Linked DNA regions of Homo sapiens. The protein of the gene in region 7 interacts with the protein of the main gene of each other region in a biochemical or structural test. Each region holds a gene or a part of one and is shown on either strand. Other genes may lie near its edges.

Region 1 (4,216 bases), on a different chromosome or scaffold from region 7:
AAATGGCTCTAAAAAATAAACTCCTACTGAAATAAATAAATATTTGTTCATATTTCAAACCACCATGACCTAAATGTCAGATTTAAGAGACAATTTAAATGTTTTCATTTTCTATTTTTTTATAACAATTTCAGATTCTTTAAAAACCTGACAATATTCTAGAAGAATGTTTTTGTTACATACTCTGTCCCTTGTTAGCATTTGTGCTCTGTTTTTGTGCACAATTTTGATAATCCCTGGAGGCTGAACCCACGCTTCACCATCCACTTGCACTGGGACTCCTTCGTCACCAAATATAGTGATTTTCACTGTACGGCACTGAAATAAAACAAATCATTTTAGAGTACAAATCATCCAGAGAAAATGACACTCAATCTTTATGAAGGCTTGAGTATTAGACTATTCTACAGAATAGACTATTATGCTTTATCACTTATAAATGACATGGTAAAAACTGATATGACAACAAAGTCAGAATATTATAGATGAATATCCAGTGTACGAGTTGTTTAGAATAGATTCCTTCAACCCTCCTTAGCCCAAGAAGTGCAGTCAGGTTTGACGAGAGAAACCAACCTGGGCTATTCGATGATGCTGCAGTTTAATGACCCTTGAAACTGCCATTTGCATGCTATCAAATATTGCTACAACTTCCAGGATCTTGTCATCAAAGGATGGTGCAGCAAATATCTGAAAGAAAAACTACATTACACTTCTACTGAATGTTTAGGTGAAGAGCACGTTAAGCAATGTAAACTGCAATATATATCTACATATATTTAATATATTTAATAATATATTTAAGTAAATATTATTAGGAAATAATAATCCAAGAAAAAAATCTCTGAAGATGACTTCCAATAAACCTAACTTTAAAAAGGGTTTTCAAATATACACGGATATACTACTCATACCTCTCATTAAACTACTCTTTGGACCAGTTAACTAATATATTTCTAAATAATTCACCTTGGAATAAAACATGTTAAATACATGTTCATACCTAATTCAAACATGTTAATAAGATGATACATGTAAGTTTTGGAAATCTAAAAAAAACTACAAAGGCGATATAGTGTCATAGAAAGGTGATATAGTTTCATAAAGTTAAAGCTAATGAAGATGCAAATTATGATCCAGTTTACTTGATATATTCTAAGGGAAATCTTTCAAGGTTTTACAAGCAATATACATATGTGCTTTATATTTTAATACAAAACTTTTGAGGGAACTTGAGAGTATGCAAATAGAAACCTCAGAAGATAAAAATTATGCAGACTTATTTTGTCTTTACATTAGATGCATTTTCACAAAATTAATTTACTCTAAAATTTTATATGTAGGCTGTATTACCTTACTCTCTCTTTTACTATATCATAAATAATATGCATCTGAAACAATTTTCAGTATAAAGTAATAAGCTAATTAAAACTTTCACTGAAAATATCAGGACACAAAGTTGCTAACATTGTAATTTGTAATTTTTTTATTATACTGCCTGAATTTAAACCCTGTCTCTGCTATTACTAACTGGAAACTTTGTCTTAGATTCTTCAGCAGTAAAAATCAAATAAACAACGTGGACATTAAATAATGAATGTGAAGCTCTTAGAACATTGTCGGACTACCTAGCAGGTGTTCAAGGAATGTTGGCTTTATTTACCTTAATCTCACTGATTTCTCCCCTTCAAAATACTTAATAGTGACAAGCAGACAAAAGATGCTTTTATACTCGAATAGGACTGGAATATATTTATGTCATGAAAATTACAAATACTTTCCAATTGATCTTATACTGTATCCCTATCTGTCCATTTAAGATCTTTGAGAATAACAGATCAGTAGGAACCATTATATCATTATATCATAAACTCAAATCAATGGATGTGACTCTTCAAATAAAGACTGTGATAACACTTCTCATTTTTACTGATATATATATATATATATATACACACTTTAATAATTGTGCCCTCTCTTTCATTCTTTTCACAACAATTACATTTGTAAGGTTGTGTTTTCTTCTTTTTCTAATATAGAAAAGTATGAAAAGAAAAACAAAAATAGCCCTAAACTCGACCGGCCAAATGAGCCCTCTTGATATTTCTGAAAATAAAAAATATATACACACACAAGTTTAGAAAATTAAAAGTACTGAGGCTGGATGCAGTGGCTCATCCCTGTAATCCTAGGACTTTGGGAGGCCGAGGTGGGTGGATCACCTGAGGTCAGAAGTTCGAGACCACCCTGGCCAACATGGTGAAACCCCCGTCTCTACTAAAAATGCAAAAATTAGCCAGGTGTGGTGGTGTGTGCCTGTAGTCCCAGCTACCCAGGAGGCTGAGGCAGGGGAACTGCTTGAACCTGAGAGGCAGAGGTTGTAGCGAGCTGAGATTACGCCATTGCACTCCAGTCTGAGCGACAGAGTAAGATTCTGTCTCAAAAAAGAAAGAAGGAAGGAAGGAAGGAAGGAAGGAAGGAAGGAAGGAAGGAAGGAAGGAAGGAAGGAAGGAAGGAAGGAAGGAGAGAGAAAGAGAAAGAAAGAAAGAAAGAAAGAAAGAAAGAAAGAAAGAAAGAAAGAAAGAAGGAAGGAAAGAAGGAAAGAAGGAAAGAAAGAAAGAAAAAGAAAGAAAGAAAGAAAGAAAGAAAGAAAGAAAGAAAGAAAGAAAGAAAAAGTAAAAGTACCAAAAGGTATTGTGGTAGGCAGAATAATGCCCCCTCTCTGCCCCCTAAAATGTCCATGTCCTAATCCCCCAAACCCGTGAATCTGTTACCTTACACAGCAAAAGGAACTTTGCAGATGTGATTAAATAAAGGGCCTTGAGATGGGGATGATCCTGGGTGATCTAGGTGGGCCCAATGTAATCACAGTGGTCATCAAAAGTGGAAGAGGAAGCAGCAGACATCAGAGAGATGCCATGTGAGAAGGATTCAACCTGCCTTTGCTGGCTTTGAAGATGGAGGGGAATGTGGGCAGCCTCGAGACGCTCCAAAGACAGGGAAATAAGAGTCTCCCTTAGAGCCTCCGGAAGGCAACAGCCCAGCTGACACCTTGATTTTAGCCCAGTAAGACTGTGCCAGTCTCCCATCATATACAACAGTAAGATGATAAATGTGTTTGAGGTGGCTAAATTTGTGTTAACTTGTTATAGCAGCGATAGAAAACAGATGCAGGTATAAAATTAAAAAGTAAAATCTTCCCTTCCTTATTTCATAAATCTACTTTCCAAAAGCAGACCCACTATTTAATGTTCATCCAGAAAATTGTGACATACATCCCAAGATACGAATATCTGTATCTTCAACATGAGAAAAGTTGGAGTACATCCACAAGAGACTGTTACAATAAAATCTTAAATAAATCTATTCCATGCCTCACTTACCCAATGCAAAATATTTAACATGAAATTAAACTACTATTCAACAGCCCATTTACAAAAGCAAATTATTCCAGTGATATAATTATTTTTGAGGAAACAAACTATTTACTCCCATTACTTACATCATCCTCTTTAGTTCCACCCCAAAAGTTAGTGCCTCCAGCATAGCTGGGAATGTTCAACACGGCTATGCCTTGCAAGCTGGGAAGAGGAATATACTGCCCATCACACTGTAAGGTAAAAAAAAAAAAAAAAAGTAGAGATTAGATAAAAAGAGCAGAACCACTAGTATGGAAGATACTAAAACACTAAAGATGAAGGACAATGGAGCACAGTGTGTTCGTAATGTCTGCTCTCTACACGTTACCAAATCATTTATCTTATTTTTTTTAATTAAAAAAAGTTTGAAGTATAAATAACTATAGCAGAAGTTATTACAAAAAACTGATTTTTAAAGAAATGCTTTACCTCTTTCCTCCAAAACCAGGGAGTCCTTTTCTTGAATCATTTTCAGGCCTTTTATGTACTTTCACCTGCATTGTGGTCCTCTATGTACTTATTTTAAGCATCTTTTTGAAAGCAGACTGGGTAAGAGAAAGTTGATCCTAACCATCTCACTTAGCCCCTCTCACAGTCCCTGGTACATTGCTGGGGCTCTACAACCACCTGGGGACTGGTGAAACTCAAAGCTGAATACTTCAAGTACAAGTCAGAACCAAAGTCAAGCAAAAATATATGCATCTCAGAAAGCTCCTTGCAGTCCTTACTTTCTCATTAAGCACTTAAATGAAAAGTAAATTACCATGTAAATGGAAAAAAAGGATATGGCTGGTGAA
Region 2 (4,216 bases), on a different chromosome or scaffold from region 7:
AGGCAGAGCGTCCAGGGGAAACAGCACCCGCAGGCCTCAAGGGGGTGCATTTCTGTCTGGGACAGGACGCAGACAGCCCCAGCAGGCAGGAGTCCTGGCAGGCAGCAGAGAGGGACTATGCACAGGTGGGATCTGGAGGCTGCCATCTGCAGGAAGCCAGAGGAAAAGGCAGCTCTAGGCTGGGGGTCCCAGGGTCCCAGGGAGGTCCCAAGACAGAGGCAGAGCCAGGGTCCCTAGAGCCAGGGGACCAGCCACGGCCGAGGAGTACCACTGTGTGTCATCGTTAGAGACTTACCACTTTCCTAGAGACCATGGCCATGCTCCTAGAGGGTGAACCTGCATTCGCTGACCCCTCCATGCAACCCCACTTCACTGATGGGGAAAGAGGATCCCAGAGGGGTAAGGAACAAGCCCAAAATAATAGAGCCTGCATTGGAACCGGGCTGAGCTAACACTTGGCTTACCGGCACTGTCACTGCCAGGGCCCGCGCGACCAGACCCTGGCCCTCCCCGGGACCCAAGGTCATCTGGGCCCAGGAAAAGGCCCTTAAAACAAATTCAGTTCCGGTGACATCCAAAAGAGCATATTAAAAAGCAAGGACCAGTCAGGCGCGGTGGCTCAAGCCTGTAATCCCTCACTTTGGGAGGCTGAGGCAGGAGGATCGCTTGAGCCCAGGAGTTCAAGACCAGCCTGGGTAACATAGTAAGACCCTCTCATCGCTACTAAAAATCAAAAAATGAGGCAGGAGGATCACTGGAGCCCAGGAGATAGAGGCTGCACTGAGCTGAGATTGTGCTACTGCACTCCAGCCTGGGCGACAGGGCAAGATTCCGTCAAAGGAAAAAAAAAAAAACCTAAGGACCTGGTTTGATTGGGACTTTTATCTTGAAATAAAACTGAAGTTTAGGAAAACGTTTCTTTTATGCTATATTTAACCACATATGGGTTATGATGGCAAATACTTGCTACATCTTAGAACAAAGATAGATCAAATGCCTTTTTTAAAAAACTTCAATTTTTTTCTGATAAATCAGAAGGAGTGCTCTCACTGCAAACACCCGGGACCAGTTTTTTTTTTTAAAAAAAAAAAAAACCTTCCAGGATTCCTCAGTTCTCCCAGGGGCCGGCTCTGCAACCTTTGTTATTCAAATCAGAGGCTTTGAAGCTGGTGACCTTGTGGGTTTTCCTGTCTTGTTAACCCAGTTGTTATCTGTCCAAGGCTCCAGTGTCGGCCGCTTTGAGCACCAGCCCAGTGACTCTCACGTCACTCACATAAACTTCATGAAACACCGCGGCTTGTGCGATTTTACTCTGATGTTGTTGGGCTGGTGTTGTCCGATGTTTATTGGGTGATGCAATCAGGTGACGCCTAAGGGGAGGGCTGGGAGGAGCATCTGGGTTAAGCAGGGAGAGCACAGATTTTAAACGTGGCCGAGAAGAATTTTACCTTGCAGCCAGTTGTGGATCCAAATCCCATCTCCAAACCATGAGAATTTAAATACCGTAAATTCAGCTACTCGTGAGCCAGTGGGGTGGGGGAGTGGGCAGAAAGCAGACCCTGAGATGGAGAAGGGAAGGCAAGGGGAGATGCAGCCACAGCCTGGGCCCAGCCCAGCCCCTGGGAGCGTGGGAGCTGGGGCCTTTCTGGGTGGTCCCTCTGCCCCATGAACCAGTCACAGGCTGCTCTCCCCAGAGAAGGGGCAGCACTCCCAGGGGCTGGGGGACAGGCTCTCCATCCTGAATGTGGTCTGGGCAATGCAGCCCAGGGTCTCCCGAGAGGCCCTGTCCTGCCATGATTCCCATCTTCCAAGAGAAAGGCACAGTGTGACTGGTTATCAGAATCAAAGCCAGAGAGGGCTAGTCCGGAAGTGAGGGGCAGCTCAGAGGCCCCCGAGGGCAGACTTGGTCCCAGCCAGAGAGGCAACGCCCCAGCGCATCGCTGCCCCTGACACAAAGCCTGTGTGTGAAGGGATGGTGGAGCCACCCTGCCTGCCCTTTCCTGGAAGAGCCTGACGCTGGGGTTGTGTCCTGAGTTTGGCAGGCTTCTGGGATCGCTGGCCGAGACAAGCCCAGGATTGTCCTCCGGGGTTGGCCATGTCCTCCCAGGCAGCTCCTGGTGGGAGGTGCTGTTGCTGTTGGGGTGCCCTCTCCCCGGCAGGGCAGGGACCTGACTTCCAGCCTTGCCCGCAGTTTCTCTCTATTGATCTCCTACTATGGGCTGGTCTTCGACCTGCAGAGCCTGGGCCGTGACATCTTCCTCCTCCAGGCCCTCTTCGGGGCCGTGGACTTCCTGGGCCGGGCCACCACTGCCCTCTTGCTCAGTTTCCTTGGCCGCCGCACCATCCAGGCGGGTTCCCAGGCCATGGCCGGCCTCGCCATTCTAGCCAACATGCTGGTGCCGCAAGGTGAGGCAGGCGGACTGGGCGGTGGGACCGGGCCCTGCTTCCCCGCCCACCCCACTGCTCTGAGCGTGGGGCCACATCCCCTCCCTGGCCCCAGGAGCTGCCTCCCTGTTTTCTTTCTGAATGAGGGAGGCTATGAGGACCTGGAATCCCTCTCTGTGTCTCCTTTTATTGCTGAGGGTGGGAGACTGGGGGAAAGGGACAGGGCGGCACGTCGTGCGGTGGCGGCAGAGCCGGGAGGAAGGCAGGAGGCTGCCTTGCGGCTGGCAGAAGGCCTGAGCGGGGACGGAGGCGGCCGGGGCCCTGCAGGCTGCAGCGAGAGCCCAAGCTCTGAGCGCGAGCAGCTGCGAGGAAACTGACAACGGCGAGCACCTCCCAGCAGTTCAGGCACCTCCACGGAGCAACGCGTTGGGGAGGCCAGGCCTGCGGCCAAAAGGGGGCCCGGACCTCCGCCTCCAGGCCAGGGCTTCTGCCATCCCCACACAGGCAGGCTGGCGGGCAGCAGGAAGGCTGCTGTGGACCGGGCCCGGCGCTCTCTCCGTCATAGCAAGAGGCATCTCGGGACCCTAGGAGCCGCGGTGGGGGGCATTCTTTCAGTGCAGCCTCCACGGCCGGCCAGGCTCAGCTACCCTAGACCTGGCTGGGTTTCTGCCTGTGCCCCTCGGGCCCCTGCCGCGATATCGCATCCTATGCTCTGTCCCCCAACCCCAGCCCTGGGCAGCCCCGCACCAAGCCAGCAGGGCCGGGGACTTGTAGGGAGCCCAGGGTCCCCTCTGCTCCAGGCTGGCTGGCCGCACACTGACTAGCCCCTGGGTACCCTCCAGGGCAAACCCCACTCTCACCCCCTTCCTGTACCCAGATTTGCAGACCCTGCGTGTGGTCTTTGCTGTGCTGGGAAAGGGATGTTTTGGGATAAGCCTAACCTGCCTCACCATCTACAAGGCTGAACTCTTTCCAACGCCAGTGCGGTAAGCTGGGCTGCAGGCCATGCCCCAGGGCCAGCAGGGCCGTCCTGAGAGGGCGGTGGGAAGGGAAAGAAGGGTCTGGCAGCCAGGGAAATGCAGCCAGGGCCGCTCAGGGTCCCCCCCAGGACAGCTCTTCCCCTTGAGAGTCTCGACCCAGACAGAAGCAGTACAGTAGAGCCCTGGGGACATCTGGGCCTGTGTTTTCACACCATTTTGAGCCACAGAGTCATCTGTCCAGATGGAATCTTATAAGAATCCTGATTAGGAGACCAAGAGCTGCCCTGGTAGCAGTGGGGACCCTCAACTCACTTCCCACCACTCCTTCCCTGCCCCAAGAGAGCCCCAAGTCACCTCCTTGGAGCCCAAGGGCATCATAAAACACAAATGGAAAACCAGTGGTCTAGAGTCTAGGCCACCCCCACATTTGATATTTGGGTAAACTGAGGCTCGGGGTGAAGGACTGGCTCAGCAGAAGGGTAGGACTGGACTCCAGCTCTCCAGACTTTTAGCCCAATGTTCTTTCCACCACTCACTCATTTCTCCATATTTTAATTTGTTGTTTGGACAAGCATTTATTGATTTTGTTGATATCGTATGGAAAGCCTGAGTTGGGAGCTCAGTGGCCTAGCAGGAGTATGGAGAAGCCCTTAAGTTGCCCAAGAGTGGGGAAAATGAGGTGGGCCCTAGAGATTTCCCCTGAAACACTAGATGCAAAAATCTGGGTGGGCTCCGTGGAGGAGGTGGCATTAGAGGAGGCCTTGAGGAGGGCAATTCCCTCAGCCCAGCTTTCCTTCCCCTGGCATCTGTGAGCCCAGGATGTCTTCCTGCCACAGGGCCAGCTGTTACAG
Region 3 (4,914 bases), about 28 Mb from region 7:
TTTCATAGGTTTATTTGCATGTACTTTACCAAGAAGAATTCTTTTCTACTATACATAATCCTTCTCTTTAACATTAAATACCAATGTGTTCTTTATCCCCAAGAGTATACATAATAAAAACACAGATCGTTACACCAGTTATATTTACTCTAATTAATAGCTTGTATTCCACAGAGAAATGCAAAAGCATTTACCCAATAGAGTACAATGAGTCCTAGGAAATAATAGCTTCCAAGGAAAAGATGAATACTCAGTGATTAGCTCAGGATTTATTGTTATTTAACAATATCTACATCAAATATCTATTCTTCTTCTACTCACTAATGTATTTTGTTTATGAACACCACCTCTCAATGTTATTTAAGCTAGTTTTAACTTGATCTGTGATCTTTTTAACTGGGACAACATCTGCTAGTGAGGTCACAGGCTGCTGATCCAGCTGATTAACAAGTTCCGCTACTTTAAAATGAAGCTTCTCAGGACTGCAGCAAATTTTGTCCTCTTTAGACAAACGGAGCAAACCCACCCACACAAAAGCCAATATCCCTACATATAAATCAGGCACTCTCCCTATTTATGTAAAAAAAATGTAAAAAATGGATGAGGCTTTTTCACTGCTGACTACCAGTTTACATGTTCAAAATTCTCTCTTGCTAGGTAAAGACGCTGAATTCTACTGTCATAGCAAACGTTTAAGAACACAAGCAAAAAAAAACAACTAACAAGCAGAATTCATTAAGATCTCTTTCCTCATCTTGAAACACTTTTTAAACTTTTAATCAGCATCTCTCCTAATTTTTTTAAAAAGTATTTTTAAAACTACATTACTATACTACCTTTAAAGTATAAACCCTAGAAAAATTTCAACCTATTGCATAAGTTTCATAAAACTTCACTTTAAGATTTCACTTCCAAAACCTACTAGTTAATTTAAATCATAGACTCTACCTAAAATTTTAAAGTGCCATTTTAAAAATATACATTTTTACATTGAGTTTTAAGGGACATTTATTTTAATCAGTAATAGTAAGTTTTTTTTTAAAAAAAAAAAAAAAGGAAAGTATGCTGTGTTTAAAATTCCAGGAAATTGTCCTAGAATACATTAATAAGGTGAACCAGTCTTACCTTTGCCTTAGAGCCCAAGAGAAATTTCACCTAGATTTTGGCTATCAGCCTAACAATATCAGTAATCTACAATATTCAAGAGCCACAAACCAGCCAGCAAACTTCATATTAAGTATCTAGAAGACTAAGAAGCTGACTTTCTTAATGACTGTTACCTGCATGTTGTTAGAAGCCTGCCCCAATATTAAGTGACTTTTGCTACTCCCCTACACTGTGACCCATTGCTTTTTATATCAGGCAAGAATGTAATAAACACCAACCAGTACGAAGAAAGTACCTTCACCTTAGCAAGCAAACTTCTTAGGCTCCTTGAGCTTCAAACAAGCCAAAGCGATGTTCCCGCACAAAAGCTGACAGTGAATTAACCGATCAGAAAAAAATCCATTATCCTCACCACATAAAAACGTCCTTCTATCTAACCTAAAGTCACCTTTGTATTTCTCAATTCAAGATTGTCCTAGCAAATACAACACAGCAAATTCGTTAAAAGTACACATTCTGGAGTGTGTACTGGCTCCAGAATGTGCCAGCTGATTTGGAATCATAACTCGGCCCTTACTACTGTGTAATCCTGGCCAAGTTACTTCAATGTATCGCCTCGATTTCTCTCCGTAAATCCAGCATAATAATTCTAGCAACTCACAGAGTTGTTGTAGGGAATAAATGAGAAAATTGACATAAAGCGCTTAGAAGAGTGTTTGGCACTTAGCAAGTCCATCATAAACTCTACTTATTAACATCACTATGATGACTAAATAAATGTTAGAAGGGGTCACCTCTAGAGAGAAGAGAATGGGGAAAGAGAGAGGCACTCATAGATCATAACTGAACCTTTACACTTTTGTGAATTTTTCACAATGCGCATGTATTTCATAAGTAACTTGGACAATTTCTGATTTTTAAATATTATCCCAAGAAAATGGTGCTGGGCATCATAACTGATTGTGAAAATGTTCGTGCTGAGCAGCGGATCAGAAGTCGCTGCGGACATCTGGAACGCTCGAGAAATGCCTAGCTCCCCGTTGGTCAGGGCTCCGCGCGGGCCCGAGCTCTCCCGGGGCGCCCCGGGGCTGGAGGGGGCGCGGCGCGGGCCCCACTCTCGCCCGCTCCCGCCGCGCGCTGAGGTTCACTCACGGCCGGGGGATCAGAGGCAGCGACGGGGGCGGGGGAGGCCGCGAGGGGGGCGGGGAAGGCCGCGACGGGAGCGAGGCAGGGCTGGAGGTTCGGGGTCCGGCGAAGGCACTTACTTGAACCTGCCCTGGCAGTGCTGGCACTGGTCCCCCACCCAGCCCGGGTCGCAGAGGCAGGTGGAGTTGACACAGCGGCCCGAGAAGCAGGAGCCGGTCCTCTCGCACGGCTTGGACTGGGACACCTGCGCGTAGAGCGCCAGGTAGAGGAAGCCATAGCACAGCAGCCAGCTGTTCCCGTCCAGCAGCCAGGAGGAGGCGCCCCCGCCGCCGCCGCCCGCCGGCCGAGCCCTCCACACCCCCGGGGCCGCTGGCTGCGGGGTACCAGTGCGGGCCCGGCCCCCAGTCTCCATCTTCCCCGGCGCCCCTGCCCGGCGAGACTGCGCTCGCGGGCGCCGACAGGGATGCTGTTGAAGGGAATTCCGGCCGCAGAAAACCTCTCCGCCGCCGCTTCTCCTCCTCCTCACCGGCGCCCGTCCGAGTCCCGCTCCCCGGTCAGGAGGGACAGATCCCAACCGCCGTCGCCTCCGCTCGGCTGCCTCCAGTCGCACTCGGGCATCGCCACCCAGTCTCCCGACCTTGTCCTTAGCGGGCCGACCCCACAGCCGCGGCGTCCCGGACCCGGCCGGAGGCGGGGAGCGGGAGGCGCAGACTGCGCCCGGCGCTCCTGAGGGGACCTGACCGGCAGGAGGAGGGGACCCCGCGCGCGGCCCCGCCTCGCCCGCGGCCCGCGCCAACTGCCTCGGCTCCGAGCGCCGCGCGCCCAGGAGGGCGGGGGCCGAGCGGGCGCCCCGAAGTGGGCGCGCCCAACGTGGAAGGGGGCGATCAAGGAGGCGGCGGTCAGCCCCGCCTCGCCCGCCCGGCGGTCAAGGGCGCCCCGGCAGCCATTCTGTCTCCGGTGCCTCGAGCCGGCCGCAGCGGCAGCGCCGGGAGCCCACGATGCGTGGGGCCGCCCCCCGCCCTCGCGCGCGCCTACACTCCTCCCCACAGGCCCGGCGCCTTGGTCTCGCCCCGCCCCTGACAGGGACCGGGGACTCCCCCACGCGCGCGCGCCCACCCCGCCTGGCCCGCGCGCTGACTGGAGACAGGCCCCCCAGGTGTGGCCCGCGTGCCCTTCCCCCCGGCCGGTGCGGGCACCCCGGCCCCACCCGCACCCCGCGCCCCGGGAGCCCCACGAATGAGAGATCGACACAGGCTTCGCAGCTTCAGCAGAAAAGAAGTCCTTCCCGTCCGCCGTCTGCAGCTGCAAAAGTGCAACGCTTTTTCCCTAGCGCTTCCCCCTTCCTCCGCCCCATCCTCCTGCCTATTTCTTCTTTTTCTCTTAAGAGAGAAAAACTCCAACAACACACAAAGAGCTGAGCATGTGCAGCAGGCAAAAGCCTTAAAGGCACCGCAGTCCGACCACGTTGTGGGGTCAGCGAGGGCTGGGAGGGGCGGGGATTGGGGACTGCGAGAGGCGCGAGGCGGTCTCCGCGGAGGGACCTCCGAGGGGGAGCCATTGCTGCCTCGGGAATAACGAAGCCCGCGCCCCCAACAAAGAACTGCGAGGCTCCGAGCCCCGCGCTCTCCACCCCTTACAGACGCTGCCTCGAAACCGCACGTCTCTCCTTTTCTGCTTGTCAGTGCTCCCTCCTCCATCTGGGACGATATTCTGCCTTGAAAAATATTGCAGCATCGGGGCTTTTTTTCAGAAGAGCAGAAGTGATGCCCACAAAAGGGCCGTTTTCCTTCCTCAGCAGCACTTTTTCTTCTTCAGATGACTTTCCAAGATTGGCTGGCATATTCTGAGATTTTTGTTTTGTACTTTGGTGCCTTCTCTAAACAGTTGCCTTTTTATTTGACCCCCTTGAGAAAGGAAGCCAAACACACATTGCAGCCATATATCCTCGAGTTACAGCAATGTTGCTGGAGTCCCACCAAAGAACAGGCAGTATGAAAAAGAATTCAAAATCCACCAAAGGCACTTCTCACAGAAAAAAAAAAAAAGAAGAAAGAAAAGTTTGTTGTAACTACATAGTCAAAATATTATTGTTAGGATTCAACTCGTGTTTATTTCGCGTCAGTTCTTTTCATGTCTCTTATCCCCACTTGCAGATGAAATCCTCCATTAACCCCATTTTGCAGATGAGAAAGAGCAACTCAGAAAGGTTGAAATATTGGCCAATGGCAGGTTAGGAGTAATGAACTGAGCTTTAGACACGAGGCCTCTGACTGCTGTGCTTTTTTCACTGCTTCTATTAGCAGATGCTTTGTTCTTCCTTCGGTGAATAAAATATACGTGTTGGCTTGGTTTAAAAATACCTCAGCAGTGACTTAAGGAGGAAAAAATAAAAACAAAGATCCAGAAGGAGTTGGCTCCTTCGCAAGGAAAAGAGCAAAAGGAAAACCACGATTCTCGTTGGCATACAGAACAAATCATAATTTCCATAATTTCAGGGTTTTACCAGTATCAAAAATGTCCTTATCAAACCTAGAATTAGGATGCCCTCTTCTTCCCTTAACATCTTTTCCACATCAGGCTGCCCCTTAGAGACTTCTTGAAATGAGTGAAGAAGCAGAGGAGAGAACACTGCAGACACCAGTTAAAAGGAAGATCCTGTTC
Region 4 (4,216 bases), on a different chromosome or scaffold from region 7:
AAAGTTTCTCTGTTGAAGTGAAAGTTTAGATTGAACTAAAGACTGAATTTCAGCAGTGACTAGAAACCAGAGAGTCCAAGGAAGAGATGGTACTAGATAATGCTAGACATGTTGGCATTGGCTAGATCACGTCGTGCCTCTGTAGGTCCATCTGCTGTCGTCATTTGGAAGCACACACTTTGTAATGGTGTGATAGTAACAACCTTTTCGCTATCTTTCCTCTAGCGATTGTTAGCGCAGCAGCAAAGGGCGCAGAGTCAGAGAAGCGTGCCTTCTGGGAACCGGCCGCAGCAAGACCAGCAGGTAGAGCCCGCCCTGCAACTCGCAATGCTGTCTTTGTGTTAATAAACTCTGCTTATCTCCATTGTAGCAAGAGATTCAGAAATGTCTTTCTTAAAACAATCTTACTAAGATGTAATGCAGTATGTTTTTCATTAAGTCTGCTGGTTGCCCATGAGTTATGTGAACATTATACAGTGATTATTCACCTTTCTGCTGAGACGAAAGTGAATTCAAAAATGGAGAGGAATATGTAGTTTTCTGTAAAGACGTTTTCCCCCAGTAATTTTTTCCAATCATTTCATTGTTTTAAGGGTCGACCTCTTAGTGTGCAGCAGCAAATGATGCAACAATCTCGTCAACTTGATCCAAACCTGTTGGTGAAGCAGCAGACTCCACCATCTCAGCAGCAGCCACTCCATCAGCCAGCCATGAAGTCTTTCCTTGACAATGTCATGCCCCACACTACACCTGAGCTGCAAAAAGGGCCATCACCAATAAATGCTTTCAGCAACTTCCCTATAGGTGGGTTTCTCCTTGGCCCAAGTATTGGACTGATGCTTAGGTATCACAGGCGTGCCTCCTTCACACGTACCCTTACAGCTCTGTTCCTTCATGAAAGCTACATTGATCTCTTAGCTGTTCCCTCTCAGAGAGTTGCCATCCCCTCTCCTAGTTTTAACCTGCTCCACATTCAGGGAAGGTCTCTCTCCTCAAGAAAATCACGATTTTTCTTTTCTTTCCTTTTCTTTTTTTTTTTTTTTAGGACAGAGTCTTGCTCTGTCACCCAGGGTGGAGTGCAGTGGTGAGATCTTGGCTCACTGCAACCTCTGCCTCCCGGGTTCAAGCGATTCTCGCACCTCAGCTTCCCGAGTAGCTGGGATTACAGGCGCGCACCACCACGCCCAGCTAATCTTTGTATTTTAATAGATTTGGGGTTTCACCATGTTGGCCGGGTGGGTCTGGAACTCCTGACCTCAGGTGATCTGCCTGCCTTGGCCTCCCAAAGTGTTGGGATTACAGGCATGAGCCACCATGCCCAGCCTTCAAAATCACACTATTTCAAAAACTCCACACTCGTTTAAAGTGCATTAGAATAAAGGAAACATTTCACTTTTTAAAGGACTAGCTGTCTTAATCTTAAGTAGGATATTAAGGGTGGGAAGGAAGGCTGATGTTCTTATTAGAAACAGTACACCAGAGAATTTTTGAGCAGTGCTGTTTTGGTGAAACAGCTGGGGATGGTCACAGTCACATTTGCTAGCTCTCAGAACTTGAAGTTTTAACTACTGTCTAACTATGTATAAATGATTACTGATATAAATTTAAAAATGGAGGTAAGAAAGGAGATTGCCTTTCTTATACATGCAACTCCCCACCCCCACCCACTCTTTTTTCTCTGTTATCTCCAGGCTTTTATTCACTGGGTAGAGATTTTGAGCTTATATGTTGTTTCTTTCCTAGGTCTCTTTTTTTCTTGTGCCCTTGATTATATTTTAACCATTGATTGTTCATGCCCTGTTTATTTTGCTTTTTTTCTCTCTCTTTTCCTATACAGTGGTTTCTTGTAAACCAGCTTTGCTGGTTGTTAGCCAGAGTGTTTGAAGACCATCAGTTAACTAGTTGTTCTGGGCTGTGGGCAGAGGCTGGGGCATGCTGTTGCCCCTGCTGCTGCCTCACTCTGTGACTGAACTGGTTTGGCTCAGCCTGGTATTACCACAGACTCTCACCTGGGACATAAATTGTACTTTGAGTCCTTAGGATTGTTAGTGATCTCTGCATTTCCAAAAACAGTTCCCTTGTCAGTTACTACTGTGGGTGAATACTGAAGAAGCCATTTAGTGGTGGCCAGGTGATGTCAGAGACAACAGTTAGTAGTAAAAGAATGATACCCAAGTACAGGGAGAAGTTTTTGTCTCATCAGTGAAGGGAGCTGGCTCTTCCTATTTGACTGCACACTTGACATATAAATTGGCCACATAAGTTCTAAGCATAGGATTTCCTGCCCTGGCCAGCTTCTCAGTGAGGGATACTTCTTGATTAAGAAAGTCTGCTTAGCCCATGCAAATACCAATACAGTTATCTAAGTTCGGCAACAGGCTATGGCCTGTTGGCCAAATTTGGCCCACTGCCTGCTGTTGTAAGGTTTTGTTGGACACAGCCACATTTTCTCTAACCTGGGGTCTGTGGCTGCTTTCGTGCTGCACCAGCAGAGTTGCATGGAGACACCGGGACCATGTGGCCCACAGAGCCTGAGATACCGGCTGAACCTCTGCAGAAAAAAATTGTCAACTCCTGATCCGATTGATGGGTCCAAGAGTAGCAAATTTAATTGCTCTCTGCAAAAATACGCATGGTATTAGAGAATTTGTATTATTAAAGTTTTCAGGTTTGACAGACCTTAACATCACATGGACTCATCAGACCAGAGAATTTAAAACAATTTAATTTGGAACTTTAGAATAAGAACCTCTTGGGAATTGTGAAACAAAGATTCTGGCTCCCACTGGAAAGTCTTCATTTTTAAACAAGCGTTTTAGGTGATTCTAATATTAATAGTCCCTAGATTACTCTTTTAAGAAAAACTAGCTTAATAGTTTTCTGACCACTGTATCTAAGGTTGAAATTTCCATTCTTGTTCCAAGAGAATATCCAAGTCTGAGGGGCCTCATCAGCAAAGGTCAAGTAAATTGTGCCTTAAGATATATCTGTCCCCAGCCTAGGTGTAATTGCTAGTACAGGACATTTTTACTTTAGAATTTGCAAGCAAAAGATAGCAACTGAAAGTGACCACAGATCTTCATGCATAGGTACACTTGGGAAATAGCTAAACAGATACATTTTATTCCAAGTAAACTTATACATCTGGCTTCCTTAAAACTTTTCTCCCTCTTATTTTGCCAAGGAGTTTTAAATAAATCATCAAAATTTTATGGAGAAATATTTTCTACGTATAACTAAATTATAGTATTAACAGTTATGTGGTTTGAAAACATTAGTTACATGTTTTTCTAGGAAATAGAAGTTGTGCTACTAGAAAGAAAATGTGCTGTATTTTCTAAGGTTTTGTTTTGTTTTTTAATTTTTCAGGCTTGAACTCAAACTTGAATGTAAATATGGATATGAACAGTATTAAAGAGCCACAGTCAAGACTAAGGAAGTGGACGACAGTGGACAGCATTTCTGTGAACACATCTTTGGATCAAAACTCCAGCAAACATGGTACAAAAGATACATCTTACCAAAAAAAAAAAAAAAACACACACACCTGCAGAATACTAGATTTAGGCCTTTATTTTATTTTAAATGTGTTTTCAAAGCCAAATTATCTTAGAACTTTTCCTCATTTAAAAAAAGTTGTTATTAAGTCTTAGTTACAATAAGAGACTTTCAGATGAAAAGCAGAATTTACCTCTACTCTGTTTTATAAAGGAGAGATCAGATGATACATGTTTAAAAATTATTTTCTCTTTGGCTTTTTACATTTTTCTAAGTGATTTTATTCTTATATTATTACACTTATTAACATTTACTGGATTTAATTTGATATGTTCTTAGGACATTTAAAACTTCTACCAGGGTCCCATTCCGTCACCCAGGCTGGAATGCATTGGCATGATCTCAGCTCACTGAAAACTCTGCTCCCGGGTTCAAGCAGTTCTCCTACCTCAGCCTCCTGAGTAGCTGGGATTACAGGCCTGAGCCACCATGCCCGGCTAATTTTTGTATTTTTAGTAGAGACAGGGTTTCATCATGCTGGCCAGGCTGGTCTCAAACTCCTGACCTCAGGTGATCCATCTGCCTTGGTCTCCCAAAGTGCTGCGATTACAGGTGTGAACTACTGCACCTGGCCCATAATTTTATTTCTATCAATTCCTTATATATGGACACATTTCTTTATATAGCTTATTGCTATGTGTAAGTCATATGGATTTAA
Region 5 (4,216 bases), on a different chromosome or scaffold from region 7:
AGCCATCCCCCTATGGCACTAGGATTCCAAGTGCCCACCACAATGCCCAGCCTGCCTCATTAAAAAAGAAAAAAAGTCACACATGCCAGGTGCAGTGGCTCACACCTGTAATCCCAGCCCTCTGGGAGGCCAAGGTGGGAGAATCATTTGAGCCCAGGAGTTTGAGACCAGCCTGGACAATTAGCAAGACCCTGTCTCTATAAAAAAAACTAGCTGGGCAGGTCGGGCACGGTGGCTCACGCCTGTAATCCCAGCACTTTGCGAGGCTGAGGCAGGCAGATCACCTGAGGTCAGGAGTTCGAGACCAGCCTGGCCAACACGGGGAAACCCCATCTCTACTAAAAATACAAAAATTAGCTGGGCGTGGTGGCAGCCACCTGTAATCCCAGCTACTTAGGAGGCTGAGGAGGCTAAGACAGGAGAATTCCCTGAACCTGGGAGGCGGAGGTTGCAGTGAGCCGAGATCGTACCACTGCACTCCAACCTGGGTGACAAGAGTGAGACTTCATCTTTGCGGGGAAAAACAAAACCCACACACAAAAACTAGCTGGGCTTGGTGGCACACATCGGTAGCCCCAGCTGCTCAGGAGGCTGAGTGGGAGGATCACTTGAGCACGGGAGTTGGGGCTACAGTGAGCTACAATCGCACCACTGCATTCCAGCCTGGGGGACAGAGCAAGGCTGTATCTCAAAAATTTTTTTGACCAGGTGCGGTGGCTCACATCTGTAATCTCTGCACTTTGGGAGGCTGAGGCAGGTGGATCACCTGAGGTCAGGAGTTTGAGGCCAGCCTGGACAACATGGTGAAAGCCTGTTTCTACTAAAAATACAAAAATTAGCCGGGTGTGGTGGCGGGTGCCTGTAATCGTAGCTACCTGGGAGGCTGACTGGAGAATTGTGTGAGCCTGGGAGGCTGAGACTGCAGTGAGCTGAGATTGCTTCACTGCACTCCAGTCTGGGCGACAGAGTGAGACTCTGTCCGACTCTCAAGAAAAAAACAAAACTGAAAGCCACATTCCAGTATTAGAAGGCACCCGGTTGGGTGTCTGTAGCTGGCATCTCTTCTTTTCTTACAGGCACAGAAAGTAACGGGCTGTCTAGGGGGGTGGCATCTCCAATCCGCCAATCAGCTGTCGAGGGGTTTGAAGGTCGCTGACGGTGGCTGTGGTATGGGAAAGCACTCGGGATGCAGGCTGGGCTGAGGGCAGGAGGATGATGCCCGGGGCCCTCCTCTGAGGGTGTAGTCCCCGCTGGGGAGGCGAGTTTTGGTGAACAGCTGGGCTTCCGAGGATATCAGAGGATGGGGGTTTAAGGGGACACCGAAGTACGCACGGCCTCGGGGGACCTGCTTGCCAGTGTGCAGAACAGGGATGGTCACCCTCTAGTTTGCAGGGAAAGGAGCCTGGGGGGCTGAGAGCTGCCTCCAGCCTCTCATGAGGGCAAAGAAGCCCGGGGTCTCATCCTGTGGGTGCGGGACCAGCACCAGGCAGGAGCGGCGGAGCTCAGAGCCCAGAGCTGTTCCCACGCACACACCCTCTGCTCCCCGCAGCCAGCCCAGGATGGCTTCTCTCATGGATGAGAGAGACCCACAGAGGGTCCTCGGCGTGGCCTGGCACACCCGGCCTGCCCACATCCTGGTCGCAGGTGCTGGCTCCCCGGGCAGGGCCAGGCCCAGCAGCCTTATTTCCTGGGGCCTGGGTGGCAGCCTGCACCCTCCCGGTCCCAGAACCCGCTGGCATCACTCACTGTGAGCATCTTCAGGTCCGCCCGCTCCGCTGGGTTCTTGATGAGGCTGGGGGTTCCAAGAGGCAGGACCGGGAGGCGGTGGAGGAGACAAGACAGGGCAGTCAGCTGGTGGCCCCGGGGCACCCGCGTGTGGGCCGTGGTCGGAGGGGGCCTGGATCTCTCCGACCAGAGAGAGTGGCACAGAGTGGCTGCTCTGTTCTGCCTCCTGGCAGAGGACGAGGGATCCACCTCTGCACTTTGGTGCCAGGGGCAGGACACCCCCCAGCGGGAGGGTGAGAGGGAAAGAGGGTGGGAAACCCCGCCTGGTGGGTCAGAAGCCTGGACGCAACCCCAGCTAACTGTCTAATAAAACCCCAGGCCCGGGGCAACATCGCCGGAGCGCACGCCAAGGGCCCGGGGCAACTCCGGCACCAGGAGTGCGGTGCCGTTCCACGGCGTCCCGAGCTCACACACATGGACCGGCCCTGTGGGCAGCGGGGTGTCCGCAGCTCCTTCCCCGTGGTCTGCGGCACATGCCTGTGAAGCCCACGCCACAGGTGCTGCTGGGTGCTTGGGGGCAGGAGAATGGAGTGGGGCTGGCGACCCTCCCAGAACCTGCGGGCGGATCCCGGGGAGCCCACAGTCAGCACACCAGGGGTCCGGGGACCAGACAGAGGCTTCTCCTGCTGCAGACAGTGAGCTGGGGACACCGTCATGTGCACAGGGCCTGCAATCCTGCTTCACCCCTGGGCTCACGGACAGGATGGCATGGCAGCCGGGAGCTGCAGCCCCACAGCTCTGGGAAAAGGAATCTGGCTTCCCGTTGGGCTGAGTCCTGCCTAACGCTGCACTGGGATTCTGGATGGGCAGGCTGGGCCACGGGCCCCACCCAGGACCCGGAAGGAGTGGCACATCTGGGTCCCGGCCAGGGGTGTGGGCAGCCCGGCTCCACCTACCATTTATTGACAAACTCCTGGAAGTCGGGGGTGAACACACCGTTGGGCAGCTTAGGAGGTGGCTGTGGAGGAGAACAGAGGGTGGGGTCAGCCCTGGGCATCGTCAGGGACCCTCGGCTGCAGCCCTCTCTACCCCTCACTGTCCTGTCCGGTCACCCACCCTGCAGGCCTGGCCGACACCACATGCCAACTGGGCTGCACCCTGTCAGAGGTGGCCTTCTCCCGAAAGCTCTCGTTTGAGAGTCACGGCTGCTTAGAGGGAAAGAGTGGGGTGCGTCCCCCTTTTATCAACAGGACAACCTCTCGAGTGTCGTCACTTGCTTCCTTCCCCAGTGTCACTGGCTGAAGGATGAGCTTTGGGACTGGGCCCCACAGAGGGACATCTGGATCCAAAGTTATTTTGTTTTGAGACAGTCTCGCTCTGTTGCCCAGGCTGGAGTGCAATGGCGTGATCTTGGCTCACTGCAGCCTCCACCTCCGGGGTTCAAGGGATTCTCCAGCCTCAGCCTCCTGAGTAGCTGGGATGACAGGTGCCCACCACTGCGCCTGGCTAATTTTTATATTTTTAGTAGAGACGGTATTTCACCAGGTTGGCCAGGCTGGTCTCGAACTCCTGACCTCAGGTGATCCACCCACTGTGGCCTCCCAAAGTGCTGGAATTACACACCTGAGCCACCGTGCCCGGCCAAACTGGGTCCACAGTTTTAAGCCCAAGCACTGGGGAGCCTGGCCTGACACACGTCCCCGGAGCGGGAGTGGCCGTGTAAGCGGTGCCAGCAGGGCAGGGGCAGGCCTTTCCCGCGCAGGGGCAGGGGCGGGAAGAGGCGGGGGAGAGGTCGGGGGATGTGCTCACTGGGCATGGGTGTGGCTGCTAGGTGCAGGGAGAGCTGGGTCACCAGGGCCACCCCACCTGGCTCCGTCATCATCTCGCCACCCAACCCCAGGCCTAGCCCAGTCTGCAGGCAGCTCAAATGCCCGTTTCTCTGCCCCAGCTCCAAAGGGCCACCAAAGACACAGAAACCCACAGAAGGCCCAGGGAGGTGGCCCGGCCTGGTCACGTGGCCAACAGGACCTTGGGGTGCAGTCCTGTGCCTCCCTGACAGCTGCAGGCCTGGAAGGAGGCCGCGTCCCTCCTTGTGCCTTGTTTTACTCATCTGGGCGGTGGAAACCCTCATACTGTGGCTCACTGGGTTGTTATGGGGACTGACGGAGCAGGAGCCACCCCGGGACCTACAGGTCCTTCTAGGCTCTCTGGGCCTCCTTCCAAGAGGCAAGGGCCATTCCTGTACCTTTCTCCGTGGAAGCGGGGTGATTTATGAGTCCACGCCCACGGGCGCCAGGACGCTCTGATGCAGAGACACTGGGCCACTGCTCAAGGGGCAGGCTGGCTCCTCGGCCTGAGCCCAGGGCTGCTGGCACACACCTCCCTCTGGACTCAGGGTGAGAGGCTGCGGTGGGAATTCTGGGTTCGTCTTCATAAAAAAACAATGCCCTTGGGAAGGAGCTGGGCTTGTGCAGCACAGTAGAAGATGGGA
Region 6 (4,153 bases), on a different chromosome or scaffold from region 7:
CATGTCAGTGTACCAGATCGAATCACAGGAAGGGCGGGACTAAAGGAACTACAAGCTGTTAGCCCTTCCCGAATTTGGAATTTTGTTGAAATTAATGTTTCTATGGAAGAACTGCAGAAATTAAGAAGAACTCGAATATGTCACTTAATTCGGCCATTGGATACAGTTTTGGATGATAGCATTGGCTGTGCAGTCTGGTTTGCTTCTAGAGGAATTGGTTGGTTAGTGGCCCAGGAAGGAGTGAAATCCTATCAGAGCAATGCAAAGGTATGACACAGTGTTTCTTCTCCTGAGAATTCCTGAGACCTATTTTTGACCCTTAAAGCTTTTAGCATTTTGATTGTAAGAATATAGCATATTTTAGGTGCATTTATCTTATTTTCTTTACTGTGTAGTTGATAACATTTTTATACGGATTTCTTTAAACCTCATAGGTAGTTCTCACTGGAATTGGTGCAGATGAGCAACTTGCAGGTTATTCTCGTCATCGTGTCCGCTTTCAGTCGCATGGGCTGGAAGGATTGAATAAGGAAATAATGATGGAACTGGGTCGAATTTCTTCTAGAAATCTTGGTCGTGATGACAGAGTTATTGGTGATCATGGAAAAGAAGCAAGGTAATTCTAATCATTTGAGTGTTCTTACGGTATTTTTATAAAAACAGCAGAGTGTAAATGGAGACTTTAAAGTTTGTTTTCTCTTTGGAGACTGTTCACATGAATAAGAGCAGCAATAATAGCTTGGCTTTGTATTATAAACAAAGTCAGAAACAGAGCTGGGAAGAGCCAGGAGAGCATTTATTTTCTAGAACTCATTCTCTAAGAAATGTCTTTTCAGTAATTTTCAAAGGTAACATAATGACAGGATTGTTTTTAAGACTATAGTGAAAAATACTGTCAAAGTAGGCCAGGCATGGTGGCTCACACCTGTCTTCCTAGCACTTTGGGAGGCCAAGGCGGGTGGATCACCTGAGGACAGGAGTTCAAGACCAGCCTGGTAAACATGATGAAACCCCACTTCTACTAAAAATACAAAAAAATTAGCTGATCATGGTGCTGCATGCCTGTAGTTCCAGCTACTCGGGAGGCTGAGAATGGCTGAACCCAGGAGGTGGAGGTTGCAGTGAGCCCAGATCGCGCCACCGCACTCCAGCCTGGGAGACAGTGCGAGACTCTGTTTCCACAAAAAAACAGAGTAAAACTGAGATAGTGAAATACTAAGAGAAGGTATTTAGAGGGTTTTGTTCAGCTTTTAATGTTTGCTTTCCTCCCAGTAAGGGCATAAGCCCCACCTGCAAGCCTTCTCCAGTGTTATAGAAACTGGCTTTGTCTCTATAGACATTTCTGTATGTACAGATCCATGCTGATTTGAAGGTAGTCCTTACACTGGATATTCCTCTGCCACGTTTTTTGAACACAATTTAGTTACATATTGCAGATTACCTAAAACCTTCAAAGAAACCAAGGCACTTTCATGTATGTATTCTTGCTTTTCAGGTTTATTTTTACCTATATCATATTTCTGAAGGTAGTGAACAAGTACAGTATTTGAATAAAACTTTCTAAAACATTAAGTAAGGATAAAGGAAGATGTGACATTTAGTTATAAAGAGCAAAAATTCATTCAAGTAGGCTAATTGATTAAGTGGTAGTTTATTACAAGGGTGCAAGCATCCAAGAATAGGAAGTCCAAGTAAGCTTCATGAGAATTAAACATACTACACTTTCTCTCCCTCTCTCTCTCTCTCTCTTTGACTTCATTGTTTCTTGTCTCTACTTCAGTCTTTTCCTCTTTCCACTGACTTGTAGTTGCCTTTACACAGTTGTCTTTCTTAAGTTTCTGGTCCTAGCCCATGTAAAAGTTTAGCTACTATGTCATTATTCTGTCATAATTTTCAAGATTTCACTATAAACTGATAACTAATGCCATAATAAAGTCCGTAAACTGTTAAACTGTTTTCTCTTTGAAGGACATGAGAGAGGTAGAAATTCAGTCTGTTATTTCAGCTAGGTCATAGAGAAAGGAATTTGTCTAGTAAAAGCCCTTACTTATGAAAGTATTATATTATGCTCAAATAAAAATGCATATGAAGAATGTTTAAAGCAGCTAATACAGAATTGTGATATAACAAATATAGTGGCTAGATCTAAATAATTTATTACGTATCTTGACATACATATTAACAGTAGTGTGTTGATTTGATTCTCTAGTTAAATTTGCTTTTGCAACTCATTCATTTTTATGTAATATTCCAGATAACAAATGTCTTTGTCCTTTCCAATCTCTTAACCTAGAATAGGATGTAATAAAACGGAAACACTAGTGTAACTGTATTGCATTTTGAGATGTGGGATGGTGGGTGTTAAAGTATTTTAAACAGAAAAAGAACATAATTTTCTAGAAATTGGGGAAGGAAAAGGGCAGAAAGTTTTTTTTTAATCGAATATTTTGTTTCTAGGTCATCCCAGAATTTAGGGGAAAAAAATCTAATATTTTGTTCTGTTACAGTAATTTATCACCATTTAATTGGTTTAAGTATAATTAAACAATTTTGAGTAACAAAATTTTACCATAAGTGTTTTGCAGGTTCAGGACTGTGGAGCCCTTCTATATTGGTTCCATATCCCTAAAGTGTCATTTCTTTAGACCTGATAAAGATCAGACACAGATTGAATAGTTAGTTAAGATCATGCTCGTAGGCTAGGTGCGGTGGCTCACTCCTGTATTCCCAGCACTTTGGGAGGCCAAAGCAGGTGGGTCACTTGAGTTCAGGAGTCCGAGACCAGCCTGGGCAATGTGGCGAAATCTCATCTCTACCAACAAATACAAAGATTAGCTGGGTGCGGTAGTGCTCACCTAGGCAAAAAAAAAAAAAAAAAATCATGTTTGTTTTCAAGGCCTCCACAAAGATACCTTGTAAAACAATTTGAAATTATTTCTGGACACAATAAACCTAATTTATTTATTGAGATTTAGACTATTTTGTAGTATATGTATTAAAATTAGTCATGTTGTGAAACAATTTGGTTAAATTTTAGCTATAAAACTGTGTATAAATCAAAGCAGGTTGATTTTATTTTTACATAGTGGTTATATTATCTGTCTATTTTAGATTTCCTTTCCTGGATGAAAATGTTGTCTCCTTTCTAAATTCTCTGCCGATTTGGGAAAAAGCAAACTTGACTTTACCCCGAGGAATTGGTGAAAAATTACTTTTACGCCTTGCAGCTGTGGAACTTGGTCTTACAGCCTCTGCTCTTCTGCCCAAACGGGCCATGCAGTTTGGATCAAGAATTGCAAAAATGGAAAAAATTAATGAAAAGGCATCTGATAAATGTGGACGGCTCCAAATCATGTCCTTAGAAAATCTTTCTATTGAAAAGGAGACTAAATTGTAATGTGATTCACAATGTAACAATATAAAAATAAGTTTTTATATAATTATATAAAAGTAAGATACTCTGCTGCTTTACTATTGTATAACATAGTAGTTTTAAAGTTCATTTGGTTGAATTTTCATTTTTTCCTGTCACAGAGCTTCTAAAACCATGGAATTTCCTTAGTGATAGGGAATATCTTTTGTTGTTCATAATAAGCCCCTTTTGATCACACCTGAGTTTATGCTAATGCGTTGACTTAGGGTGAGGTCTCTAAATAGCCTTTAACACCTGCAGCTTGGGAGGCCAAGGCAGAGGGATCTCTTGAGTCCAGGAGTTTGAGAACAGCCTGGGCAACATGATGAAACCTCATCTCTACCAAAAAAAAAAAAAAAGTACAGAAAATTAGCTGGGCATGGAAGCATGTGCCTCCCTACTCAAGAGTCTGAGGTGGGAGGATCACTTGAGCCCAGGAAGTTGAAGCTGCAGTGAGGCTAGGATCATACCACTGCACTCCAGCCTGGGCGACAGTGAGACCCTGTCTCTAAAAATAAAAATAAAAACAAAAATAAAAATCAAGTGATTAGAAGAGTTGGAATTTCATCCCCACCCACCAACCTCTGGGAGGGAGAGTGGTGCTGAAAATTAAGGTCTATTAAACTTTATAAAAACTCTTGAACAAGATTTGATGAGCCTCTGGTTTGCTGAACATGTGGAGGTGCTGGGAGTGTGGTATGCCCAGAGAGGACAAGGAAGCTCCCTCTCATCTTAATTTTT
Region 7 (4,216 bases):
GGCAGGGTTGTCGGCTACCTCACTCTCTCCACATCTGCCAGGTAGCACAAAGCACCTGGCACTAAGATGCTTTTGAGTGGGTGCATTTATCCTGCCCTTCAGCCTGGCAGTGTCTCTGGGATGCTGCTGTGTCTTAGCTGCTGCATCTCCCTTTTCTCCTGGAGTCTGAAAAGTGCTCCATAGCTTTGCAGGGTGCAGGGGTTATAAGAGGCTAATCAAGGTTACAAATAGCCTGCAGTTTTTTGTTTGTTTGTTTGTTTTTAGACAGAGTCTCGCTCTCACCCAGGCTGGAGTGCAGTGGCATAATCTTAGCTCACTACAACCTCCACCTCCTGGGTTCAATCAAGAGTTCAAGCGATTCTCCTGCTTCAGCCTCCCGAGTAGCTGAGACTACAGGCACATGCCACCATGTCCAGCTAATTTTTTTTGTAATTTTGGTACAGACGGGGTTTCACCATGTTGGCCAGGCTGACCTCAGGTGATCTGCCTGCCTCAGCCTCCCAAAGTGCTGGGATTACAGGCATGAGCCACCACACCTGGCCACCCTTTTTTTTTTTTTTTTTAAGACCGAGTCTCCCTCTGTCACCCAGGCTGGAGTGCAGTGGTGCAATCTCAGCTCACGGCAACCTCTGCCTCCTGGGTTCAAGCAATTCTCCTGCCTCAGCCTCCCAAGTAGCTGGGACTACAGGCGCCCACCACCAGGCATGGCTAATTTTTGTATTTTTAGTAGAGACAGGGTTTCACCATATTGGCCAGGCTGATCTCGAACTCCTGACCTTGTGATCCACCCACCTTGGCCTCCCAAAGTGCTGGGATTACAGGCGTGAGCCACCACGCCCAGCAGATGCCTGCAAATTTTTAAGAGACAGAGTCTCCCTCTGTCACCCACGCTGGAGTTCAGTGGTGAGCGATCATAGTTTATTGTAACCTCAAACTCCTAGGCTGGAGTGACCCTCTCACCTGCCTCCTGAGTAGCTAGAACTACAGCCATGCACCACCACACCCTGCCAAATATTTTTATTTTTGTAGAAACAGGGTCTGGGCTCCTTTGCCTGGGCTGGCCTCAAACTCCTGGCCTCAAGCAATTCTCCTACCTCAGCCTCCCAAAGTGCTGGGATTATAGGCATGAGCCACCATGTCCAACAGCCTCCAAACCTTAATGGCTCAGAACAACAAAAGTTTCTCATTCATGCAACGTCCAATACAGTGCTCCTTAATCATCTCTCCTCCTCTCCATGCCCTGCATTCAGTCAGTCAACAAGCAGAGAGTGTGCAGGATCACAAGGATGGTTGCTAGAGGCAGACCTGGAAGGAGCATACATTGCTTCCACCCTCATTCAGTTGGCCAGAGCTAGTCCCAAGGCTGCAGTCAGACACAAAGCTCTAAGCAATGTGGTAGTCATGTGCCGGAAAGAGGAACTAGGCTTGGTTAGCAGCTGGTACTGGCCGTAGCGAATGAAAAACACAATGACGGCTTCTGTTGAATACTCCCGGGTGACTCTTCCCCAAGGACTGGCCTTTCCTCAGGACCACCTTCCTTATGCTCACCCCCCACCTCCACTATCCAATCAGATCACACCAGGCAGCAAGGCAGCCCAGTCCCAGCTCAGCCAGGGTGACCTCGTGGTGGCCATTGACGGCGTCAACACAGACACCATGACCCACCTGGAAGCCCAGAACAAGATCAAGTCTGCCAGCTACAACTTGAGCCTCACCCTGCAGAAGTAGGTGGGAGCTCTCCAGAGCAGGGGGCGGAGGTTTGGGTGTGGGCATGGGGCAGGGGCCAAAAGAGGGATTGTCCCATAGCAATTGAGTGGGCCCCGCCCTGGGCTACAAAACTGTGCAGGAAGATAAGGACAGCCCTGGGCCAGAGGAATGAACAGGCCCAAGTCGCTGTCAAGCACCTAGAGGCAGACATTACTGCCTCACTTTACAGTTAAGGCAGAGATGGTGGTCCTGGTGCTGCCCGTACGTGGGCCATTGGTCCTGGAAGGCAGGTCTTACCTACTTCCACTTTGCCCAGGCAGCCCCCAGTGACGTAGCAGGGGCCCATGGATTCTGACCAAAATGCCCAGGGGCCATGATTTCTCCATCCTCGTCGGGCCCAGGGCCTTCTTGGGGAGATCCAGCCCATGGGGTGGACAGTGGATCTGGGGCCCTCTGACTCAGCTATCTCTGAGAGCTGACTCTGGCTCTCTCTTGCTCTCTCCTCACCAGCCCTGCCCAGGCAGGAGCTTCTGGCCCCAGGGGCAACTTCCTCACCTGGTCTCATTTCTGGTTTCTACAGATCAAAGCGTCCCATTCCCATCTCCACGACAGCACCTCCAGTCCAGACCCCTCTGCCGGTGATCCCTCACCAGAAGGTAGGTGCTGACTGTGGCGGCGGGGTCCACTCAGCCCTGGTTCCTGGAGTGCTGGCCCTGGCCAGCCTGCCTGGTCTTTGGCTGGCCCAACTGGGATGAGGCCGTGGGATCAGCCCTGCCCCATCCCTGCCCCTGCTGCAGCTGACCCTGGGGAAGTGAGGCAGCCCCTTGGGAGAGACTTTCAAGCCCCTGTTGAACACTGGATGTGGGAATGAATGCCTGCCTGGGTGCAAGCCACCTCCGCTATGCCTCGTGGCTGGGCTGATAGGAAGCCAGCTTGGGCAGCAGTGTTCCCAGGAGAGGGGTCACCCTCCTGGCCAGGCAGGGGACGAGCGTCCAGGCTCTGACCTTCATTTGCCAAGGGGGCCACCGCTGGGTGACTGTGGCTGAGGCCCAGCTTGACGAGGACCTCCAGGTGTGGAGGGGCCTGCTGGCCTCACCCAGATCTCTCCCTCTGGTTTCCACTTCCCCACCTGCCCCTCCCAAGTGCATTCCCCTGTAGCCCTTAGGACGTGCTGGCAATGGCAGGCACAGGGGAGAAGGGAGGCCAAGCCCTGGCTCCAGACCTCACCACTGCCTAGGCCCTTCCCAAGGCCCCGCCAAGCAGCTCAACCCCCGAGGGCTCCCTGCTCAACTTCTCCCCCTATGTGAACTGATAGTGACCCCACCTGTCCAATGGGGCAGATTGGGCAGGGCAGTGGGGAGAGGGGAGAAAAAGAGGCTGACAGGGGTGGGGTAGGTCACAGACTGGGGAAGTGGGTGGAGGGCTGCTTGGGAGATGCTTGCAGAGGTAGACTGAGGGGCCCAAATGTGAGCTACCCAATTCCTCAGCTTCCCTCCTCACCTCCCCACCACCTGCCCACAACCAGCCCAGGAACTTCATCTCACTGGCAGTGTGGGGTCAGTGGAGCAGGAGGCTGGGCTGTGCCCACTGGGCACCCACTCTCAGGGGCAGGGGGAACAGACACAGAACGGGCCATCCCCTGACCCCTACACCCACTTCCTCGGGCCCTGGGGGCAGGAAGCTTGGCTTGGCTTCCATGCAGGGCTTGGCACTCTGCCCAGCTGGATGCCAGCCTCACGCCAGGCCAGGAGCCATGTGCCTGCCTGCTCCTCCACCAGTGTCCTCCCCTCCAAGTGCTGCGCCCAGGCGCTCTGGGCTTCAGGCTGCGGGGCTCGCGCTAACACATCTGTTTCAGGTCCACGCAGGAGCGCTGGGACGCGTGTGGCCTCTAACCGCTCTCTTCTCTCTCCCCTGCATGGCCTGCCCTGTGCCAGGACCCCGCTCTGGACACGAACGGCAGCCTGGTGGCACCCAGCCCCAGCCCTGAGGCGAGGGCCAGCCCAGGCACCCCAGGCACCCCGGAGCTCAGGCCCACCTTTAGCCCTGCCTTCTCCCGGCCCTCCGCCTTCTCCTCACTCGCCGAGGCCTCTGACCCTGGCCCTCCGCGGGCCAGCCTGAGGGCCAAGACCAGCCCAGAGGGGGCCCGGGACCTACTCGGCCCAAAAGCCCTGCCGGGCTCGAGCCAGCCGAGGCAATATAACAACCCCATTGGCCTGTACTCGGCAGAGACCCTGAGGGAGATGGCTCAGATGTACCAGATGAGCCTCCGAGGGAAGGCCTCGGGTGTCGGACTCCCAGGAGGGTAGGTAACGGACATACAGCTCTCCACAGGTGGCCTGGGCCACCTGGGTCCTCGGTGCTCGGCAGAGACCTGGTCAGGTGGTCAGAGCGAGGCACTGGCCCCAATCCAGCCAGCCCCGAGCCCATGAGGTCAGCAGTGATCCTGCGGCATTTGCCATGAGCCGGGCATGCTAGCGATTTATACAACCAACCACGCTGGGGTGACATG

Evidence for each region.
Region 1: the proteins of LDB3 (region 7) and DGKH interact in a test that uses a peptide from one of them, tested with the Homo sapiens proteins (one large-scale study listed by IntAct).
Region 2: the proteins of LDB3 (region 7) and SLC22A11 interact in a test that uses a peptide from one of them, tested with the Homo sapiens proteins (one large-scale study listed by IntAct).
Region 3: the proteins of LDB3 (region 7) and ATRNL1 interact in a test that uses a peptide from one of them, tested with the Homo sapiens proteins (one large-scale study listed by IntAct).
Region 4: the proteins of LDB3 (region 7) and TNRC6A interact in a test that uses a peptide from one of them, tested with the Homo sapiens proteins (one large-scale study listed by IntAct).
Region 5: the proteins of LDB3 (region 7) and MAP2K2 interact in a test that uses a peptide from one of them, tested with the Homo sapiens proteins (one large-scale study listed by IntAct).
Region 6: the proteins of LDB3 (region 7) and ASNSD1 interact in a test that uses a peptide from one of them, tested with the Homo sapiens proteins (one large-scale study listed by IntAct).

Annotation. Positions count from the first base shown.
Region 1 is NC_000013.11:42,205,433-42,209,648, reverse strand, and holds part of DGKH (diacylglycerol kinase eta), read right to left. Parts: intron 3,611-4,216; coding exon 3,503-3,610; intron 691-3,502; coding exon 577-690; intron 319-576; coding exon 184-318; intron 1-183.
Region 2 is NC_000011.10:64,565,408-64,569,623, forward strand, and holds part of SLC22A11 (solute carrier family 22 member 11), read left to right. Parts: intron 1-2,191; coding exon 2,192-2,406; intron 2,407-3,262; coding exon 3,263-3,371; intron 3,372-4,216. UniProt on the Homo sapiens protein: Antiporter that mediates the transport of conjugated steroids and other specific organic anions at the basal membrane of syncytiotrophoblast and at the apical membrane of proximal tubule epithelial cells, in exchange for anionic compounds.
Region 3 is NC_000010.11:115,091,502-115,096,415, reverse strand, and holds the start of ATRNL1 (attractin-like protein 1 isoform 1 precursor), read right to left. Parts: upstream 3,052-4,914; 5' UTR 2,872-3,051; coding exon of another isoform or gene 2,780-2,871; 5' UTR 2,666-2,779; coding exon 2,373-2,665; intron 1-2,372. UniProt on the Homo sapiens protein: May play a role in melanocortin signaling pathways that regulate energy homeostasis.
Region 4 is NC_000016.10:24,805,981-24,810,196, forward strand, and holds part of TNRC6A (trinucleotide repeat-containing gene 6A protein), read left to right. Parts: intron 1-225; coding exon 226-303; intron 304-593; coding exon 594-804; intron 805-3,369; coding exon 3,370-3,501; intron 3,502-4,216.
Region 5 is NC_000019.10:4,092,707-4,096,922, forward strand, and holds part of MAP2K2 (dual specificity mitogen-activated protein kinase kinase 2), read right to left. Parts: intron 2,744-4,216; coding exon 2,682-2,743; intron 1,793-2,681; coding exon 1,747-1,792; intron 1-1,746. UniProt on the Homo sapiens protein: Catalyzes the concomitant phosphorylation of a threonine and a tyrosine residue in a Thr-Glu-Tyr sequence located in MAP kinases. Activates the ERK1 and ERK2 MAP kinases.
Region 6 is NC_000002.12:189,667,330-189,671,482, forward strand, and holds the end of ASNSD1 (asparagine synthetase domain-containing protein 1), read left to right. Parts: coding exon 1-267; intron 268-434; coding exon 435-616; intron 617-3,111; coding exon 3,112-3,397; 3' UTR 3,398-3,502; downstream 3,503-4,153.
Region 7 is NC_000010.11:86,677,795-86,682,010, forward strand, and holds part of LDB3 (LIM domain-binding protein 3), read left to right. Parts: intron 1-1,572; coding exon 1,573-1,724; intron 1,725-2,287; coding exon 2,288-2,363; intron 2,364-3,641; coding exon 3,642-4,009; intron 4,010-4,216. UniProt on the Homo sapiens protein: May function as an adapter in striated muscle to couple protein kinase C-mediated signaling via its LIM domains to the cytoskeleton.